3 linked regions of the Homo sapiens genome follow. The protein of the gene in region 1 interacts with the protein of each later gene in a pairwise test. Each region holds a gene or a part of one and is shown in the gene's direction. Other genes may lie near its edges.

Region 1 (8,075 bases):
GGAAGCATGGTTAGAGCACAGCAGAGACAGCAAGAGTGTGGGGTCAGACAGACCCAGCTTCCAGTTCCAGCCCTGGCCTCACTAGCTAAGCTGTGTGCTTTCATACAAGAGGTTTACTTTCTCTGAGTGTGCTTCCTCACCTGTGAAAGAGCTTTCCCCTGGCCGCCATAACTCTCAGGCAAGTTTAGATGTTGAAACTAGAAGGAACATGGGGGACCATTTTTAACTGAAAGTCCTTGTGAAACTGCTGGGAAATAGCCCCACTGCAGTCAAGTAACTTGCCCAAATGACAGATCCGGGCAGCCAGGCACCCTGCCTCCCAGCCCAGCCCCGCTCCAGCTAGTGTGACTTTTCAGACACACGGCCCTTCTAGAGGGCAGAACTGGGCTCAGCTCCTCAGGCCTCCCAGGCTGCTGGAGGATAGGGAGGAGTGGGTGGAAGAGTTTGTCTCCTTCCATCTCTCTCCCCACCAGAACCAAGTTAAGCACCCCCCAACCCACCCGCGGGAGCTGAATTCAAGGACCATTAACTCCCTGTTGTTCCTACCTCCTCCTCTCACCCTAGCCCTTCCCCCCAGCACATGGATCCAAAAATGCCCTAAGTGATGGGCAGTCCTAGTTCCCCTGCAACATCTGCTGGCTAATCCTGGCCTATTGAGGGCAAGGCTGCCTGTCTGTTTGGATAAGGGCACTGGAGTTAGCAGCTTCCAATCTTGCCAGGCCCAGTGGAGTAGCTGAGAGTGCTGAGCTTTGGAATCAGGCTTGCTTCGGTGCTCACAGCCCAGCCTCTCATCCACTGGCTGTGTGGCCTTGGGCAGGTAAACTGGCCAAACCCCTGCCTGGAAAAGCTGCCTGCTGATCTCTGCACCCTAGCAGTGTTGGGTGGGTTAAGTGAGAGGGAGCCTGAGAAGCTGATGGTGAGCATCCAGCTTTGCTCCCAGCCAAGAGGAGGCATGAATTCCCTCCCCAGGGCTCACCACACCCCTACAGATGAGTTTGTGCAAACTGAGAGTTACGGGGGGGGTACCCCATCACCCCCAGTTCCCTACCACTCATGTAACCCAGTATATGCATTTTCTGTTCCCTCATCAATCCTCTAGTGCAGGCCAGGGGTAACAGATGGGTCGAGGACATTGGTTCTGATGCAGGACATCTCTGAGGGAAGCCTGCAGATTCCCATCCAGACATGGGAATAAAAAAGGGATAGCAGGAGGTTAGCAGCCCTGGCCCACCATCCCCCTTCTGGCCTTACCCTTGGCCCCAAGCCTCCCTGGCCCTGGGCCCAGCCTGCCCAGCGGGCACATGCCTGCAAGCCTCACCAGGAGGCGCCAGCCTGGCAGTTGGCCTCATGCCCAGAACTGAAACACAATAGTTCTCGCCAAACTTCCTGCAAGCTTTATTCCCAGAAGGGAAGGCTGTCCCCGAGGGGAGGTGCAGGGGAGATAGAGGAGGAGCCGGTGTGACTCCTGGCCAGGTCTGCAGATGCCTAGTTGGGCTCTGGGGCTGCCAGGGAGCCAATGAGAGCCCCTGGACAATGGTCTTACTCCTGGGCCCTCCCTTTCATGGCCCTAGGGAGCTCATGAGAGGCCCTGTGCCCTCACAGCAAGGTGAATCCATCTAGGAACATGAATCACCCCTCCCAGCCTCACTGCAGGAACTTCAGGCACAGTAACCACTGGAAAGGCTGAATCACAAACTATTCCAGACATTCCCATTGGCCAGGTGGGAAAATCAAGGCTCAGGGAGGTGGTACAGAGAGGTAGGGCCAGAGCTGAGCTGAAACCTAGGTCTTTTTTTTGTTGTTGTTGTTGGAGTCTCACTCTATCACCCAGGCTGGAGTACCATCTTGGCTCACTGCAACCTCCGCCTCCTAGGTTCAAGCAATTCTTCTGCCTCAGCCTCCCGAATAGCTGGGATTACAGCCTCATGCCACCGCACCTGGCTGATTTTTGTATTTTTAGTAGAGATGGGGTTTCACCATGTTGGCCCGGCTGGTCTCGATCTCCCAGCCTCCAGTGATTTGCCCGCCTCGGCCTCCCAAAGTGCTGGGATTACAGGCGTGAGCCACCACACCCGGCCAAGTTGAAACCTAGGTCTTTTTGCCCTGAGGCTGCCAGCCTTACTCCTGTGCCACTAAACCAGGAGAGCAAGGCTGCTGGGGAGTGGGGGGGTCATGGTGGCCTGCATGAGGGTGGATATGGGAGGAAGCTGCCTACCCAGGAGGGCAGGGAACAGCACTCTGGCTGCTCCTCCTCCTTCACCTCCAGGCAGGGGCATCTTCCCCTCCCCTCATTCTCCCCTGACAGGAGCATGGGGGAGAGAAGGAGGGGCAACCCTCATCAACACCTCTGTAGATGGTGACAGGCCCTGCTGGGTCCTGGAAGAGGGTGGGGGTGGCCTCCTCAGTCAGAGGAAGGAGAGGGGGGCCTCTCTGCAGGACTGGCACTTCTGATCTGGGGGGCATGTATTCTCACCTCCTAATTAGCCATCTTGCTAGGCAAGGACCACAGCCTGCACCAGGCAAGCCAAGGGAAGTAGGGGAGCAAGGCACAGGGATGACAGTTCTGGAGTGACACCCAGGGTGGAGCAGAGGAAACAGCTAGGGCAGAGGCGGGGAGGCAGGAGGGAGCTTGGTAGGTGTGAGAAACAGCCAGGAGGCCAGTGTGGCTGGAGCGGAGTGACCCACAGGGCCCGTGGGACAAGATGAGGTCAGTTTTCTGGGCCAGCTCCTGGAGGGCCCCACGGGCCATTGCAAGGCTCTGAGAGAAGCAGCAAGCTACTTCAGGGTTCTGAGCAGAGGAGAGAGAGGGTCTGGGTCCAATCTGTAAAGGCTCACTCTGGCGATTGGATGGGGTGGACGGAGAGTCGGAGAGGAAACAGAACTCCATCAGAGGCGAGTCGGGACATACAGGTGTCTGGGACCTGAGTGCTGACCTGAGGATGCTGAGAAGGGTCAGAGTCCAGATATAGTTTGAAGGTGGAGCTGACAGGATCTGCTGAAGAACTGGATAAGGGATGTAGAGGAAGAGAGGGAAGAATCAGGAAGGACTCCAAGATGTGGGGCTTGAACAACTAGAACAATGGCATCGCCATTAACTCATTAACGAGTTGGGGCAGACAGCAGGAGGAGGGGTTTGAAGGGGAGTCCAGAGTTCGTTAGCTTTGAGAGGCCAGTAGACCCCCAAGGGGAGCTGTTGAGGGGGTGTGTGGCTCCGATTGGTGGGCACCCCACGCTACCGTGAGAAATGGATGAAATAACGTTCCTAAAACTCCTCGGGGCAGAGCAGAGCCTCAGGCACTGTGCCCTTTTCTTTCTGTCTGCCTGAGGCTTCCAGGAGCCAAGGCTCAAGGTAGGAGCAGAGCAGCTTCCAGATAGGTCGGTCCAAGTCCTCATCTCCCCACTGGGGAAACTGACTCTCAGAACATGGCTGGCTTTGGGGCCCAGCATGGTGAGAGGCAGAGCTGGTTTAAACCTACCTCTCCTGACACTCAGGGCTCCTCAGGAGCCGGCCATTCTGAGCCAAGGACCCAGCCTGCCGAGGCTGCCACCAAAACCAGAGCCCGTCCAGGGCCCAGGTCCTTGCTCCTGTCTGGGCCTCAATTTCCTCTCTATGTAATAGGACATTGTTCTCAACCCCACCCAACCAGGGCCTGCCCTGGAATGCAGGGTCTGACAGGCTGAGCTTTCCAGAGATGAGGAACAGCCTGCCAGTGGCCCCTCAGGGCCCTGCCTCCACCCTGAGGAGGTCCATTGCTCCTCTCCCAGAGCCAGGAGTGCCCCTCTATGGCCCCTCATATCAGCTGGAGGGACAAAGGGTAGGCAAGACCTCCTACCACGGGAGGCCTATCAAGGGTTAATCTGTGTCAGATTAACTGGAAGTGGTGAGTCAGCCAGCCGGCCAGTGGAGGACCAGGGCCAGGGAGGACAAGGACACCCCTGAGCCACAGCAGCCTCATGGCCACACCCCTCCCCACCCCACCGCGTTTATATGCCCAGCTCTGCCGTCTTCTCTGAGTCCCCACTGCCTCCCCAGTCAAACTGAGCCACCTCTGGGCCTTGGAAAGCTCTGCCCCTTCCCGCTTGCTGCCTTCGCTCCAGTGTTCTGCTCCTGGCCTGTCCTCCCTGACTCCACTCCTGCACCTTCTCCCAACCCTTTAAGGCCTCCTCCTCCCTGCTGTCTTCCCTGACCGCCTCAGCCGGCCAGGGCTTTGTCTTCTCTCAGCAGCTCTCGTTAAGATGGTCCTTTGGGCCATGAATCCACAAGTTACTAAGCTGCTGAGTCCCTGCTTGGGGCAACTGGTGTAGGAAGCCCCCTGCATGGGCAGGCACCTCTTCCTCCCTAGTCCGCAAGTTTCCTGGGTAGAAGACAGGTGGGGCATCTGGGACAGACACATGCATTCACCTCCACGTAATGCACTGAATGCCCCCATGAACGTGGAGAAGCTTTGTCAGCTGTAAAGTGCTGTGCACAGGAGGGACCTGAGGTGATGGGTGAGCTGAGGTGAGGTTACAAGATAGACTGAAGAAGGTGGCCCATTGTTAGGACTGCAAAAGCAGGTGGGATTTAGGAATTACAGACGAGGACACCTGCGAAAGCTAAGGCTTAGAAGTGGGACCAGACTTGAAAGGTGAGGTGGCCTGTCTCATCCTGCAGGAAGGGTAGGATCCAGGACTAGAGGAGAGGCACTGAGAGAGACGTGGGATGGGGACAGAAGTAGGGAGAAAATGGGGCCAAGGCGACTGCCTTGCAGAGTGGGCGGAAGGGTGACAGAGGGAGGCAGGCACTTGACGGAAGCTGTGAGTGGCTAGTGCTAGAGGGTGGCAGTGAAGGGAGGTGCCGCAGCAGAGGAGGCCACTCAGGGCCAGGTGCAGTAACTCATGCCTATAATCCCAGCACTCTGGGAGGCCGAGGCAGGCAGATCACCTGAGGTCAGGAGTTTGAGACCATGGGGAAATCCCGTCTCTACTAAAAATACAAAAATTAGTTGGATGTGGTGGCACATGCCTGTAATCCCAGCTACTGTGGAGGCTGAGGCAGGAGAATTGCTTGAACCTGGGAGGTAGAGGCTGCAGTGAGCCAAGATGGCACCACTGCACTCCAGCCTGGGCAACAGAGCAAGACTCTGTCTCAAAAAAAAAAAAAAACACTCAGCCCTGGCTCTCCCCACAGAACACTGAAGACCCAGAGGAGCCCCTGATCGCCTCCCAGAGCACGGAACCTGAGATCGGTCACCTGTCTCCCTCTAAGAAGGAGACCATCATGGTCACCCTCCATGGGGCTACCAACCTGCCTGCCTGCAAGGATGGCTCCGAGCCGTGGCCCTATGTGGTGGTGTAAGTAGCTGCGTGAGAGTGGGGGCAGGGGATGGGTTGGGCTGTGAGCAGAAACCAGGGGACAGCTATTTGGAATACTAGCACCCAAAGGCCCAGGACTGGGACTGTCATACCCAGAGGGGAGGAGCTGCTGTGGGCACTACCTGGCATCTCCGCTGCTGCATGGGAAGCTGCTCACCAGGGCTGGGGAAGACAGGGTGCCAACGGATCCAGAGAGTCACCCCTCCCCACCCCACACCAGTGGGGCAGGGATTGGTCACAGCTCAGCTCCAGTGGGGCAGGTTCCTTGTATGCAAAAGTCTGGGCTGGGCTCATGGGCATGATGGTCAGATTGGGGAAGGGGAAGATTTGGGACCTGCCTCTCCTGACTTCTGGGTGCCCCACCCCACCATACCCAGCCCTGGGGTAGGGTCCTCATAACCACCCTCCCCTCCTCCCCTCCTTCTCCAGTCACTTCTATTATGGGGACTCCCCTAGTTCTGGGCCTTTAATGCACCCCACACACCCCCTCCAGCCAGCTGCTGTCAGGGTACACACTTCCCCAGCCTGGCACCAAGGCCTGCCACGCCACGTCTATGCCCACCTCACGGGTCTCACTTCTTCCAGAAAGGCGCCAAGGGGCAACACAATCTCCATCCAGCCAACCTTCGCTGGGGACACTGAATATTTGCTCAATCTTTATTATAAAGCACCCTCCAAGGAGCATGTCACCCCTAGACCTTCTATAGACAGACGGCGGGAGCCTTGGTGGCCTCCCACCAAGCCACCCTATACTTCCCCTCCCCCACCAATACTGGCACCATTCAGTTCCTGCCAAGAGTCTGTTGCCCACATTTCCTTTTGGGGAGTGCCTGCCCCAGCCCACTCACCAATGCCTGCTGAAATCCTGCCTTCAAAGCCTCCTCCTCCAGGCAGCCACCAGAGTTGAGCTCTCCCTCTTCTGGAGCTCCACAGCAGTGGTGACCCTGGTCTGAAGCACTTTATATCAACATGGTTTATGCACTCCTCTGGGGCTCCCTGAGGACGGATCTCCTCCTCCATTTCCCTCAACAATGCATCCAACATAGGCCTGAGCCCAAACTTAGGAGCCAAGGAGTGACTGAGGCCAACACCTGGTTACTATGATAAGTCCCTGCCCCCCCAGGGCCCCCACTGTGAAAGGGGGGTAGAAGCTGTGCCGAGAGCAACAGGTGAAACACTTGCCTTAAAAGCCCCATTTGTGCCAGCCCAGCTCCTCGGCCATCCCTCCCCCAACTCCATTTCCGTGGTGAGGGAAGCACAGGTGGTGGGAGCAGGCTTGGCAGGGAGGCTGGTTTCTAGCGGGGAGCTCGCCTTCTCCGCTCAGCTATTTCCATAAACCAATTATCGCCGATCATCTCGGGAGATTGAGGCCCTGACTGTCACCAATCCGGCCTGGGCGGCGGGGCGGGGAGCTGGGTGGCTGTGTGGCTCCTAGGCAGGCACCGCGACCCGCGCCATCACCCGGTTGCCATGGGAACGCGCGGCAGGAGCCTAGGCGACACGAGCCTGGGTGGGGGTTCGGAGAGCCGGGCACACCCCGAGTCCTCCTGCACCCTCCCTGTGGCTGCGGCACGTGGGGCGGGAGGGTGGGGACAGAGAACGCGGGGAGGGGGGAGGGGAAAGCACTTCGCTGCACCCTTCTCCAGCTGGGAGCAGCGCCCGGGCCAGGCTGCAGCCTGCGTCCCAGGGCTCCAGACAGGCGAAGCTGCCACCAGCTCGAGGTGGTGCTAATGAGATGCAAATGATGGGAGAAGGAAGGGCTTCTGAGAATGTGAAGGCCGAGCTGTCAGGACCTGAAGGGGGCTTTCAGTGCTCACCCCCAGCCCCAGGCAGAAACCCCAGAGGGAGGATCCAGACCCTCAGAGGCCATAGAACCTGGAAAGAATTTATATCCCTGCACATCTGATTACAAATAAACAAGTAACAAAGCACACAATAGGCATAAGAAAGTTCATGAAAGTTTTCGTTTTGTTCATGATGAATATTTCAATGCTTTTTAAAAATATGTATTTGTGAAGACTTCAATGTAAGACCTGCAACTGTAACACCCCTAGAAGAAAACACAGGGGAAAGGCTCCTTTACATTGGTCTTGGCAATTAATCTTCGGATATGACACCGGAAGTACAGGCAACAGAATCAAAAATAAGTGAGACTGCATCAAACTGAAAAGCTTCTGCGCAGCAAAGGGAATAATCCACAAAACAAAAAGGCAGCCTATGGTATGGGAGAAAATATTTGCAAAACATGTATCGGATAAGGAGTTAATATCCAAAATATATGAGTAACTCATACAACTCAATAGCAAAAAGACAAGTAACCCAATTTAAAAAATGAGAAAAAGACCCGAATAGACATTTTTCCAACAAAGAAATACAAATGGCCAACAGGCACATGAAAAGGTGCACATCGCTAATCATCAGGGAAGTGCAAATCAAAGCCACAAGGAGATAGCACCTCACACCTGTTAGGATGGCTGTTCTCAAAAACACAAGAGATAAGTGTTGGTGCGGGTGTGGAGAAAAGAGAACGCTTGTACACTGTTGGTGGGAATACGCAGTAAAATGGTGCAGCCATTATGGAGCACAGCACGGAGGTTCCTCAAGAAATTGAAAATAAAACTACCATATGATCCCGCAATCTCACTACTGGGTATATATCCAAAGGAAACAAAATCAGTATTTTGAAAAGATATCGGGCCGGGCGCAGTGGCTCACGCCTG
Region 2 (5,625 bases), on another chromosome or scaffold:
AGACCCTGATGCAGGAGGGAGCTTGTTGTGTTTGAACATAGCAGAAGGTTAGTGTGTCTAGGGTCACAGGAGCACAACAAAGATGAGGAGGAGAAGATGAAGTCCAAGGAAACTGGAAGCAGATCACACAATGTAACAGGTGCATGAAAAGATCACCATGATAGTGAAAGTGACCAGACTGAGTGCTTTCTGTGTGCCCTTGAGTGTTGAGCACATGACCTGTATCTGCTCATTCACCCTCATGGTATTCATGGTGGAGACACTAGGATGCTCCCATTTTCCAGAAAAGGAAATTGAAGTTCAGGAGGGGTTAGGTAACTTGTCCATGGTCACATGGCCATTTCTCCCTGGCTGTAAGAGCTGCACTGTTAACCTTCCTGCTTTAACGCCTTTCTGTGGCAAATGTCAGATGGACAGTAGTGGCATTAGGGGCCTTGAGAACTGGAGGGAGAAAGGAGGCCCCAGCTGGCCCTTAGAGGAGAGAAGCCCTGGTCTCCTTCCAGTGTGTCCTGCTTGTGAACACATTACTTGAGGGTGAGTCTACCATTCTTTTATATCAAGACTCATAACAAAGATTTTTTAACATGATAGAGAAACTCAACTGGAGAACCAATACAGACCACCACCCTCCAACAACAATAACAAACGATTCCAAAGTGCAGTTTCCCTCTGTCTTTACTATGGAAGGAGCAGAGAAGGGGACTCTCCTATCCAAGGTGTCTTTCAGCACTCACTTGAGTAGCACAAACATGGACAAGTCAATAGTACAAAGAAAGAGGCAGGGTCTTAGGGATCTAACAAGCAAATGTGATGTGTAGGCACTGCCTGGGTCCTAGTTCAGATAAACCAACTGTGAAAAGACATTTTCAAGACAGGAACTTTGTAATGGACAGGTATCAGGGAATTCTGAAGAATTCCTGTTAGATTTTCTTGAGTTTACTCATGGCATTGTGTAACCACAATGTGAGAAAATATTCAGTGTGTTTTGAGAAACATTCTGAAGTGCATAGGAATGAACTGACACAATGTCTAGGCTTTGCTTTAAAATATTTCAGAAAATAAAATAGGTAAATGAAGCAAATGTGGAAAACCTCACAATTACAGGATCTGGATAGTGGACATGGGCTTTGTCCTATTTTCTCTCTTTTGTGTAGTTTTGACATTTTTCATAATAGACTTACTTATGAATTTTTTTAATGGGGTTGACCAAGAGGGGCAGTGAGAATGTAATGCATTTTGCCTGGACTTCGGTCCCAGCTCTACTACTTCAAAAATTATTGACCAAAAATTATCAATATTACCTTTGTTTGAAATTCTGAAGGTATGGGGAAAATGTTAGTTCACATGGCCATGCGCCGTGGCTTACGCCTGTAATCCCAGCACTTTGAGAGGCTGAGGAGGGCAGATTGCCTGAGCTCAGGAGTTCAAGACCAGCCTAGGGAACATGGTGAAACCCCATCTCTACTAAAATACAAAAAAATTAGCCCAACGTGATTGTGTGCACCTGTAGTCCCAGCTACTTGGAAGGCTGAGGCAGGAGAATCACTTGAACTGGGGTGGTGGAGTTTGCAGTGAGTTGAGATCATGCACTGCAGCCTGGGTGACAAAGCAAAACTCTGTCTCAAAAAAAAAAAAAAATAGTTCACAGTGACAACAAGCCAGAGAACTGACTGTGGTCACATAAATAATTTTCACTGAATCTCCTTCAGCACCCAATTAGCTCATGTAATTGCTACCAACAAGCCAGCTCAAGTGAATCCATTAAGTTTGTAAGCAGTATATATGCCATATATTTCTCTTTGTAAACTTAATTTTAAATTTCATTTTGAAAAACTGTAGCTATCCAGGAAAGTTTCAAGAATAGTAAAATGAACATCCATCTACCATTCACTAAATACAACAATTGTTAACATTTTGCCACATTTTAAGTGCTGTATATTTCTAACTCTAAAAGCTTTTGACAATGTATCACACTTTTAAAGCTGCTTAGAAGGGAGGAAGGGAAGGAGGGCAGAAAGAGGGGAAAATCCACTATAGAATGCAGACAAGGGTTTGATTATAAAGCATATTTGTTTTCATATCAGAAAAAGATAAAAGGACATTTTGGTGAATCAAAAATTAAGAGCAGAAATTTTTTTCATTGACTGGCCTGATGAACAGCCTTCCAGATCATTTGTTAAAACATCAGTAAGAGGAAATATCCCCTAAAATCTTGGACATGGCTCCTTTTTCTCTCAACGGGGAGTGGGATAACATGAATCCACACACACTTCTGGATGCAAATACATGGATCAGGCATGCAGAAAGCGGAGGGGTCAACAGGGGACTCCAAGGGGTGTGTAGTGGAAGCGGAAGTCCCACTTGAGTCATAGGCAGGGGAGGCCTCTTCAGCCAAATCAGCTCCAGAGTCCTCCCTGGGAAAATGTTCATTCCATATTCACTCATTCAACAAATATTCATCACACATTCCCCAGGCTCAGGCACCATGCAAGGCACAGGGTGCCCAGAGGGAACATGCAGCACCCACTGCTGCCTCCAGCTACCCCTGCATCTTGCATCCTCATGCTGCTCTCTTTCTCTGTCCCCCCACCCCCGCCTGCCCTGCCTCCTTCAGCGCCACCTGTCCCAGGAAGAGTTCTACCAAGTCTTTGGCATGACCATCTCTGAGTTTGACCGGCTGGCCCTCTGGAAGAGGAATGAACTGAAGAAGCAAGCCCGGCTGTTCTAGGCAGAGGCTCTATAAATATATATGCATTTATATAAAGATATATGTAAAATCTCTCTACTGAAGCTCGGTATAATCCTCTCTTGTGTAATGGGACACACTGCCTGCCATGAGACTTGCTTTTCTGTACTGTCAGGCAAGCCCACGTCATCGAGATATTTTTATGCTCCTTACTTTCTCTTTTCTAAGTGCTGTGGGATCTGGGAAGGGATTTGAGGGGACTCTGTCCTTTTATTGGGGATCCTTTTTATACTGAAACATCTGTCCTAACTTGAGTGCCCCAAGGTCCAACTCTCTTTCCTAAAGAAGGTGCCTGAAGAAGTCTCTCTTCTCTCTGCTTCGTGGCCCCTTTCTTAAATTTCTAGGGCTGATGCTGACCATGTGGTTTCCACACCTTATTGGCCCCAGAGGGGCCCTCCCATGGGAAGATCTGCAGCAGTCTCCCCAAATCAGTGAGCACCTTTGAGCGCCCACGAAGAACTTTCTCAACACCCCCAATTAGGAGCTCAGTGCTCTCTTGGGGCAATGCAGTTAAAAGGGTGAGCCTCAAATCTAGTCATTACACCAGTCAACAGAAGTGGACAGGGCCTAGGCCTCTCCTCAGCTCCTTAACCCTCCTCCTTCTGCCCTGGATTGTAACCTCTCCCTTGTCCAAATCTAGGATTCCTGGTAGGAAAAGGAAAAGGCCCTTCCCTTCCCTCCACCACTTCCAACTGGCCCCTTTGCCTGACCTGGACTTGGAGAACCAGAGGAAAAGAGAGGGAGCGGAAGTGGGAGATGGAGCAGGGCACCTGTTAGAATCAGAGCTGCAGGATTTCTTGGGACCCTCCTCTCTCCCTCACTGCTCCCAGCACCTCCTGACCCTTCCCTCTTTCAAGGAGAAGCCCATGATTGCAGCTTGTATTCTTTAGCCTTATTACAATCTATGTGCCTGACAACTCAACACACCGCAGGGCTAATGTTCCCACCAGAGCTCCAACTGAACAACCAGACAGACAACTCTCATCATCCTCCAGAGAGAAAATAGGCCGTGTCTCAAAGAAAGGTTCTTGGTCTATGCCTCTGGTCTGTGGGCTGGCAGGGCAACCATACCATACCCCCGCCAGTCCTCGGCTCCTGCTGCAAAGTTGGCCATGTTTCACAGGGAAACTTTTGGAAGAGTGGCTGCTTATGAGATTCCAAAATGAAGTGTTGGCCAACACCGCTCATGGCCATCCTGGATTTTCCCAGTGGCTTCCCTTCCTGCTCGCCTCCCTGAACAGGGGAGAAAGCTTAACCTCTCTTCTCCTCTCCAAACCTTTCACCTTGAATGGGTAATGTTTGGTGGGGGCTGTTCCTTCTTGGAGAAGCCTTGAGTCGGACCATTTTGAGATCATGGAGGAAGGATGAAGAAGTGAAAATGACAATAATGACTCTCAAGAGGCTGGCGATGTGACATGGCAAATGTAGAACTGACTTAAATTGAACAAACCCTCACTGAGCACCTCTGATGTTGAGCACCTGCTGAATACTGAGCACTGAATGGGGGAGGGGGAGGGGAGCACGGGGTGAGTCAACCTGGGACTCGGTCTCAGGGATATGCCTACCAATAGCGGGTATCGTAAGGCATGTACCCAAACATAACGGATGTAAGGCAGAAAGTGATCGGAGAAGGAATGAGAAAGTGTGCGTGATGTTAATGAAAAGTCATATGCAGCTAGAGCAGACCCAGGAAAGCTTTCTGGAAGAGATTGCATCTGAGGAAATTCAGGAAGGATCTTTGTAGATTGGGGGGAGATTCTAAATTGAAGGGGTGATGGGGTGAGGGGCCAGAGGGAAGTCTGCTGTGTTCTCATGTAGGATGTCAGCCCTCCCTGCAACTTCTCTTTTTGGCCAATGTCTTTTCACTTTCCTGACCCTTTAGAATCATCCCCAGCCAGACGCAATCATGGAAGTTGCCTTATTGTCACTGGTTAAGAACTTGGCGAGATTGAAGGGCTTTTGTTATTGTTGTTGGATATTTTTGTTTCCCATAAAAGCACATCATTTCAACCCTAAACCTGTGTGCTTCTGTTGTTTCTTGTGTGGGAGTGGAAATGACTGACATGGGAAGAGGCTGAACCCTGCACATTTTTCAAAATGAAAGCACCAAAACAGCAGCCACTCCTTTGGCCTCAGTTTCTCCTTCTGTAAAATGAGAAAGTTTGGTAAAGGTAAACATCACTTAGATTCTTTTCTGTAGAATGCAGGATCCCTCAAGATGGTAAAGGATGTTCCAACAACAAAGAACTTCTGTGATCAAAAATAATAATAATAATAATAATAATAATAATAATAATAGTTCCTTATTACTAAGCACCAGCAATGTTCCAAGTTCTATGTGAGCACTTCACACCCATCATCTCATTTAAGCTTCTGAAACAACCCAAGAGGTAGCCGTTATTAACATCTCCATCTCCTAAATGAGTAAATAGCTTTGAAGAGAACCATAATTACTGCTGGTAGAGCCAGGAGTGAATTCTAGCCTGTCTGACTCAGAGAGACCAGCTTACCACTCTTATTAGGCAAGATCCTTCCAGCTGCAGGTAAAGAGAGCATCTTATTACAAGTGGCTTCAACAGTGAGAACATGTGTTGTCTTGCATGACCAGAAATCCAAGGTGCAGAGTTAGTACATTCAGCAGCTCAGGGATGGAGTCCAGAGCCCAGGTTGTTTGTATCTCTGTACCCCACCATCCTCAGCATGTTGGCTCTTGTCCTCAGCCATGTGTCCTCTATGTTTACAAGAGGCTTCTGTGGCTCCAGGCACCATGTCCTCACACAATCACATCAAAAAACAAGACAGTCTATTGCATGTCTATTGTAGTCAGAAAAACTTTTCCAAAGTCCTCAGTAGACTTCTGCTTGGATCCCACCGGCCAG
Region 3 (6,382 bases), on another chromosome or scaffold:
TTTCTCCACTCCTGCAGAGTACTGCTGGCTGGAGCGGATGTGAACCTGGCATGGGGCCGCCGTTACGGGCTGGTGGGGCGGAATGGGTTGGGGAAGACAACGTTACTGAAGATGCTGGCCACCCGGAGTCTGCGGGTTCCAGCCCACATTTCCCTGCTGCACGTTGAGCAAGAGGTTGCTGGAGATGACACTCCTGCCCTGCAGAGTGTGCTGGAGAGTGACAGTGTGCGAGAGGATTTGCTACGGAGGGAGCGGGAGCTCACTGCCCAGATTGCTGCTGGCAGGTGAGGACTCCCGGCTAGGGAGTAACTAGCAGCCGCTGTCGCTTACAGAGCGCCTGCCGTCCTGGAACAATCCATAATTTGCATGTACATCCTAGTAATCAGCAGAGCTTAGAACTTGGCACTCTGGGACTCAGAAGCCCTTGTTCTTTCCACAGTGCCCATTGCCCTTTCTTGTTCTTTCCACAGTGCCCATTTCCATAGTGCCCAAGGTAATGAGCACTGTGCAAACCCTTCCTGTATTCTCTTCCTCTTCCAGCCACAAGGTAGCCAATGGCCTTTCCAACGGTATAGGGTGCAGGACATCCTCCTAGACTGCCCCTGCTTAGGCCAATTGCTGTTTCTCCTCCCTCCAGGGCGGAGGGCTCTGAAGCTGCAGAGCTGGCAGAAATCTATGCCAAACTGGAGGAGATTGAGGCTGACAAGGCACCTGCCAGGTATTTAAAGCTCCCCCTCCCTCCTTCAGATTTCCTTTCCCTTCTGTGGACTGTTCCAACTGAGTTCTTCGATTTCTTCTCTACTAGGGCATCAGTCATTCTCGCTGGGCTTGGCTTTACCCCTAAAATGCAGCAGCAGCCCACCCGGTGAGTGACCCTTGCCATTCTTGGCTTTGAACCCTGTTGTCTCAGCCCCTTCCTGCCCTGATGAACACCCACCCATAATGTGACTCCATCATTCTTTAGGGAGTTCTCAGGTGGCTGGAGGATGAGGCTGGCCCTGGCCCGGGCCCTCTTTGCTAGGTGAGTCTCCTGGGCCAGTGTATGAAGCCCTATGGAAGATTGGTCTTAGCTCTTGGGAGGTGGCATGAGTTGCTGACCTAAAACCTCAGGCCATGTATTGTTTTTCATAGGCCAGATCTTCTGCTGTTAGATGGTGAGTTTGAAATGGGGCACCCTGACTTTAGGATGGGCAGGGGTGGTAGCATCCAAGTTCCTAGTTCTCCAGCCCTTCAATCCCAAGTGTGTGCTCCCCTGCTTCTCCAGAACCTACAAACATGCTGGATGTCAGGGCCATCCTGTGGCTGGAGAATTACCTGCAGGTGAGTGCCTGTGGGTGCTGGAGTGTGTTGGGGAAAGGCGGCCTCCAAGATACCTGGGGGCCTGAGAACTGACTGCCCTCCCAAACCGGGCCTGCTGTCCTGTGACCCCTCAGACGTGGCCCTCCACCATCCTAGTCGTCTCCCACGACCGCAACTTCTTGAATGCCATCGCCACAGACATCATCCACCTGCACAGCCAGCGGCTAGATGGTTACCGGGGAGACTTTGAGACCTTCATCAAGAGTAAGCAGGAGCGGCTGCTCAACCAGCAGCGTGAATATGAGGCGCAGCAGCAGTATCGCCAGCACATCCAGGTGTGGGGCCTGGCAGGGCTGGGGGTCCCATCCCAGGGGTTCCAGAGTGGGGGATAGTGGGGGAATTTGACCAATGCCTACACTCCTCCACCTGCAGGTTTTCATTGACCGGTTTCGCTACAATGCCAACAGGGCCTCTCAAGTGCAGAGTAAACTCAAGATGCTGGAGAAGCTGTGAGTACAGCATCCTTGGCCAGGGCCTGACTCCTGTTCTCTTCGTCTCCTTCCGCATTTGCACGCCACCCTTGCCCTACCATTCTAGGTCTCCCCTTCGCTAGAAGCCAACTGTGACTTCCTCCTCTGCTGGGAAGCAGAGTATTCCACACTGTTCTTGGAGGGCTAATCTTGACTAGCACATGGCAACCACTAATTTACTTTCTGTTTCTGCTTCTACGTATCTGCTTATTCTGGGCATTTCATATAAATGGAATCATACAATATGACCTTTGTGCCTGGTGTCTTTTACCTGGCGTCATGTGTGAGGCTCATCCATATTGTAGCGTGCGTCAGAGCTTCATTTCTTTTCGTGGCTGGATAATATTCTGTTGTGTGGATATACAGCATTTTGTTTATTGAGTCATGAGGGGCCATTTGGGTTGTTTCCATTTTGGTTATTATGAATAATGTTGCTGTGAACATTGGTGTACAAATTTTTGTGTGGACATATGTTTTCAGCTTGCTTGGGTGTATACCTAGGCGCAGAATTGCTGGGTTACCTGGTAATTCCAAATTAATGTTTTGAGGAACTGTCAAACTGTTTTCTAAAGCAACAACATCATTTTACATTCCTACCAACAAGGGATGAGAGTTCCAATTTCTCCATGTCTTTGGCAGCACTGTTATTGACTTTTTTTTTTTTAGTTTTAGCCATCCTAGTGGCTGTGAAGTGATAGCTCATTGTGGTTTTGATTTGCATTGCCTTAATAACTAATGATAATGTGCATTGGGAGTTTAATTTTGAAGTGCCCTTTCTATAAGTGCTGGCAGGAAGCTTAAAATCATAAAGCTTAGATGTTTGCGACGTGGAAACATATCACAATATAGTAACTGGGGATAAAAAGTCACAAAAAGCCTAATTCTATTTTTTAGCATACAGTAAATGAGAAGAATGGACTCTAAAGTAATGATACCTGAGTGGTAGGAGTACAAGCCCTTTCTAAGTTTTCTCTGAACATATATTACTCGTGTAGGAAGTTATTTTTTTAAGTAATAAATCTAGTCTACCTCATCTCTTCTCCCAGGCCTGAGCTGAAGCCTGTGGACAAGGAATCAGAGGTCGTAATGAAGTAAGTGCTGGGCCAGTGGGGCTGGTGGGGAATTGCTTGCTTCCAGCTGCCCCCACATCCTCACCCCTACCTCCTGCAGGTTCCCTGATGGGTTTGAGAAGTTCTCGCCGCCAATTCTGCAGCTAGATGAGGTGGATTTCTACTACGATCCGAAGCACGTCATCTTCAGTCGCCTCTCTGTGTCTGCTGATCTCGAGTCTCGCATCTGTGTGGTAAGGCTGCTGTTTCTCTGTGCTGCGAGCTGGGACTCTCCTGTCTAAGTGTGTGGTGTGGATTGGCCCAGATCCTCAGGCTGTAAAGGGACGAGGTCTGTGGAACAGGAGTGAGGGCCCGGGCTAAGGATTTTGCAGGACTTACACTAGCCCTGTCCTCTGGCCGCACAGCGCTGCTCTTCAGGGAGGAAGAGCCTAGTGTATAGTGTTTTAAAAATACTTAAAAATACTTAAAGCAGTGCTTTACCTTATTGGTCTCGGTTCTGAGTTTTCTAAACCTGGAGACATTGAGGAGAGAGCATGGGCTTCAGGGTCAGACTTCGGATCTTGACTATGCCATTTCCTAGCTTGGTTACCAAGCAGCTTCCTAACTCTTAAGATGGCGCTGACATCTACCTCACTTGGTTCTTGGGAAAAGTAAGTCCCCAGCACTTAGCAAATACTCAAGTATTGCTCACCTTAGTATATGCATTTTTCTGTAGAGTTAGAGTTCCTTTTTTTTTTTTTTCGGAGACAGAGTCCTGCCCTGTTGCCCCGGCTGGAGTGCAATGGCACAATCTTGGCTCACCGCAGCTTTCGCCTCCCGGGTTCAAACAGTTCTCCCTCAGCCCCACAAGTAGCTGAGATTACAGGCACCCGCCACCATGCCCAGCTAATTTTTTGCATTTTTAGTAGAGATGGGGTTTTACCATATTGGCCAGGCTGGTCTCAAACTCCTGACCTCAAATGATCTGCCTGCCTCAGCCTCCCAAAGTGCTGGGAATACAGGCCTGAGCCACCGTGCCCGGCTAGAGTCCTTAAAAATATTTTTTTGGTTGTTGAAGGAGTCATCGGGACTGGGGACTGCCTGGGACCCCTTCTAATTTCCTTCTCCTCTGTGTTACACACAGCGGTGCTCTTTTTATTGATACATAATTGTACATATTTATGGGGTACAGAGTGATACTTCCATGCATGTATACAATGTGTAATGATCAAATCAGGGTAATTAGCATATTCATCATAAACATTTATCACTTTATGTTGGGAACATTCAGAATCTTCTAGCTTTTTGAAAATGTACAGTCTATCATTGTGAACTGTAGCGTCCCTGCAGTGCTGTAGAACCCTAGAACTTATTCCTCCATTCCTCCTATCTAACTGCAATTTTGTTTCAGTTAACCAACCTCTCCCGAACCCCTCTCTCAATTCCCCTCCTCCCCCCTTATCCTTCCCAGCCTCTAGTAACCACAACTCTGCTCTCTACTTCTATGTGCTCAACACTTTTTAGTGCCCACATATGAATGAGAACATACCGTATTTATTTTTCTGGCACACACTGTATGACATTTTCATGTTTCTTAAGGTTGGAGAGAATGGGGCTGGGAAGTCTACCATGCTGAAGCTGCTTTTGGGGGACCTGGCACCTGTTCGGGGCATCAGACACGCTCACAGGTCAGGCCCACCCGCACCCCTGCCCCCATGAGCACATTTGCAGGCACCCATGCTGCCTGCGCTCCTTCGTGGCCATTGCCTTTGTCTGTTTTTCCACCTCGGCTTCTGCCTGCAGGAATCTGAAGATTGGCTATTTCAGCCAGCACCATGTGGAGCAGCTGGACCTAAACGTCAGTGCTGTGGAACTGCTGGCACGCAAGTTTCCTGGTGAGTTAGGGATTTGAGTCGGGGGAAGAGTTTGAGTAGGGAAGAGGGCTGAGGCTGACCCCGGCAGCTAGGCCTGCCTTGGGGTGCGTGCAGAGCAGCCCCGCCAAGCCTAGATGGAAGGACATGGGGACTTGGAGGTGTGGCTGGAGGGCACAGGGAGGGTGTTGGGCCAAGAAGCCACCTGATCTGGGGAGTCCTTTTCCAGGGCGGCCTGAGGAGGAGTACCGTCACCAGCTGGGTCGGTATGGCATCTCCGGAGAACTGGCCATGCGTCCTCTTGCCAGCCTGTCTGGGGGCCAGAAGAGCCGAGTGGCCTTTGCTCAGATGACTATGCCCTGGTGAGGCCTCATTTTCCAGAGCTCTTCCCCTCCCATTTCCCCTTCTTGCCCAGTAGAAAACTGTATCAGAAGGCTTTATTTTCTCTCACCGCACCCCTTCACTGCCCACCTTCCTGGTTCTGCCTTCCAGCCCCAACTTCTACATTCTGGATGAACCCACAAACCACCTGGACATGGAGACCATTGAGGCTCTGGGCCGTGCCCTCAACAATTTCAGGGTGAGTGTGCCTTCACCCTGACCACTCCTCCCAGGCCTCGGTGCCTCTTGTGTCCCCCTGAGCACCTCCTGCCCTCCTGTCTTTCAGGGTGGTGTGATTCTGGTGTCCCACGATGAGCGCTTTATCAGGCTGGTGTGCCGGGAGTTGTGGGTATGCGAAGGAGGCGGCGTCACCCGTGTGGAAGGAGGATTTGACCAGTACCGCGCCCTCCTCCAGGAACAGTTCCGCCGCGAAGGCTTCCTCTAGGGCCACCAGGCTGAGGACTCGCCCAGGACATGGACTGGTCTCTCAGACCCCTGGGCCACCATGTAGGCCACCACTCCAGGCCGTGGACTTCCCCCAACTTGGGGACAGCCTTATTCCCAAATGTCTCTATCCTTTTGACTGGAGCATCTTCTGCACAACCTTGGGAGCCCATCCAAGGGTTGGTGAGGACTGGTCTCCCGGGGGTGGGGGTCTGGGGGGTACCCTCTGGGGTTATAGATTCCCCCACTGCCCCAGCTCTGACTGGACCCCAAGTGGCTGCTATGTAAATTAAATCTCTCCCCGCGTCTCCTTTGCCTCATGTCTGCTGCTCCCTGGGCAGTGGTTGCCTCCTACTGAGGGCTGTGGACTCTCGGATTGGCGTTTTCCTATGGCACTTGTATCCCTCACGTGTAGGAAGCAATAGCAGCACCAGCCTTGCCTCTAGAAGAGACATTGTCAAGCTACTGGGGCATGGAGGTCATCTGCCTGCCTGACCTTGGGGTGGGCTGAGCCAGTGGAATGAAGGGCAGTGTATTGGCATCATTGCGGTGCTGTTAGCCCTAGCCTGGGCTCAGCCTCAGCTGAAGGGGTCTTGGGTTCTGTCGTCACAGCCCCCACTGATGGGCAGTTGAACTGATTGTGTAACCTGGCCTCACACGTGGCCAGCTGCTTTCTCCAGTCATATCTGGCTCCGGCTTGCCCTGCTTCTCTGCTCTCTAGACTCAGCACTGAAGAGAAACCATCTTTGTCCTCACTTTGCTTGGGTGATTGCATGTTCTTTATATTTCCTCTAACCATATAGGAGGG

The links.
Region 2: the proteins of CCDC33 (region 1) and ABLIM3 interact in a two-hybrid assay, tested with the Homo sapiens proteins (2 studies listed by BioGRID and IntAct).
Region 3: the proteins of CCDC33 (region 1) and ABCF3 interact in a two-hybrid assay, tested with the Homo sapiens proteins (2 studies listed by BioGRID and IntAct).

Annotation. Positions count from the first base shown.
Region 1 is NC_000015.10:74,238,815-74,246,889, forward strand, and holds part of CCDC33 (coiled-coil domain-containing protein 33), read left to right. Parts: intron 1-5,170; coding exon 5,171-5,334; intron 5,335-8,075.
Region 2 is NC_000005.10:149,255,677-149,261,301, forward strand, and holds the end of ABLIM3 (actin-binding LIM protein 3), read left to right. Parts: intron 1-2,614; coding exon 2,615-2,728; 3' UTR 2,729-3,869; coding exon of another isoform or gene 3,870-3,899; 3' UTR 3,900-4,866; downstream 4,867-5,625. UniProt on the Homo sapiens protein: May act as scaffold protein. May stimulate ABRA activity and ABRA-dependent SRF transcriptional activity.
Region 3 is NC_000003.12:184,188,124-184,194,505, forward strand, and holds the end of ABCF3 (ATP-binding cassette sub-family F member 3), read left to right. Parts: intron 1-17; coding exon 18-284; intron 285-540; coding exon of another isoform or gene 541-547; intron 548-637; coding exon 638-718; intron 719-805; coding exon 806-865; intron 866-964; coding exon 965-1,021; intron 1,022-1,131; coding exon 1,132-1,154; intron 1,155-1,264; coding exon 1,265-1,320; intron 1,321-1,433; coding exon 1,434-1,634; intron 1,635-1,731; coding exon 1,732-1,808; intron 1,809-2,875; coding exon 2,876-2,920; intron 2,921-2,999; coding exon 3,000-3,132; intron 3,133-4,477; coding exon 4,478-4,566; intron 4,567-4,681; coding exon 4,682-4,773; intron 4,774-4,978; coding exon 4,979-5,111; intron 5,112-5,241; coding exon 5,242-5,329; intron 5,330-5,416; coding exon 5,417-5,575; 3' UTR 5,576-5,882; downstream 5,883-6,382.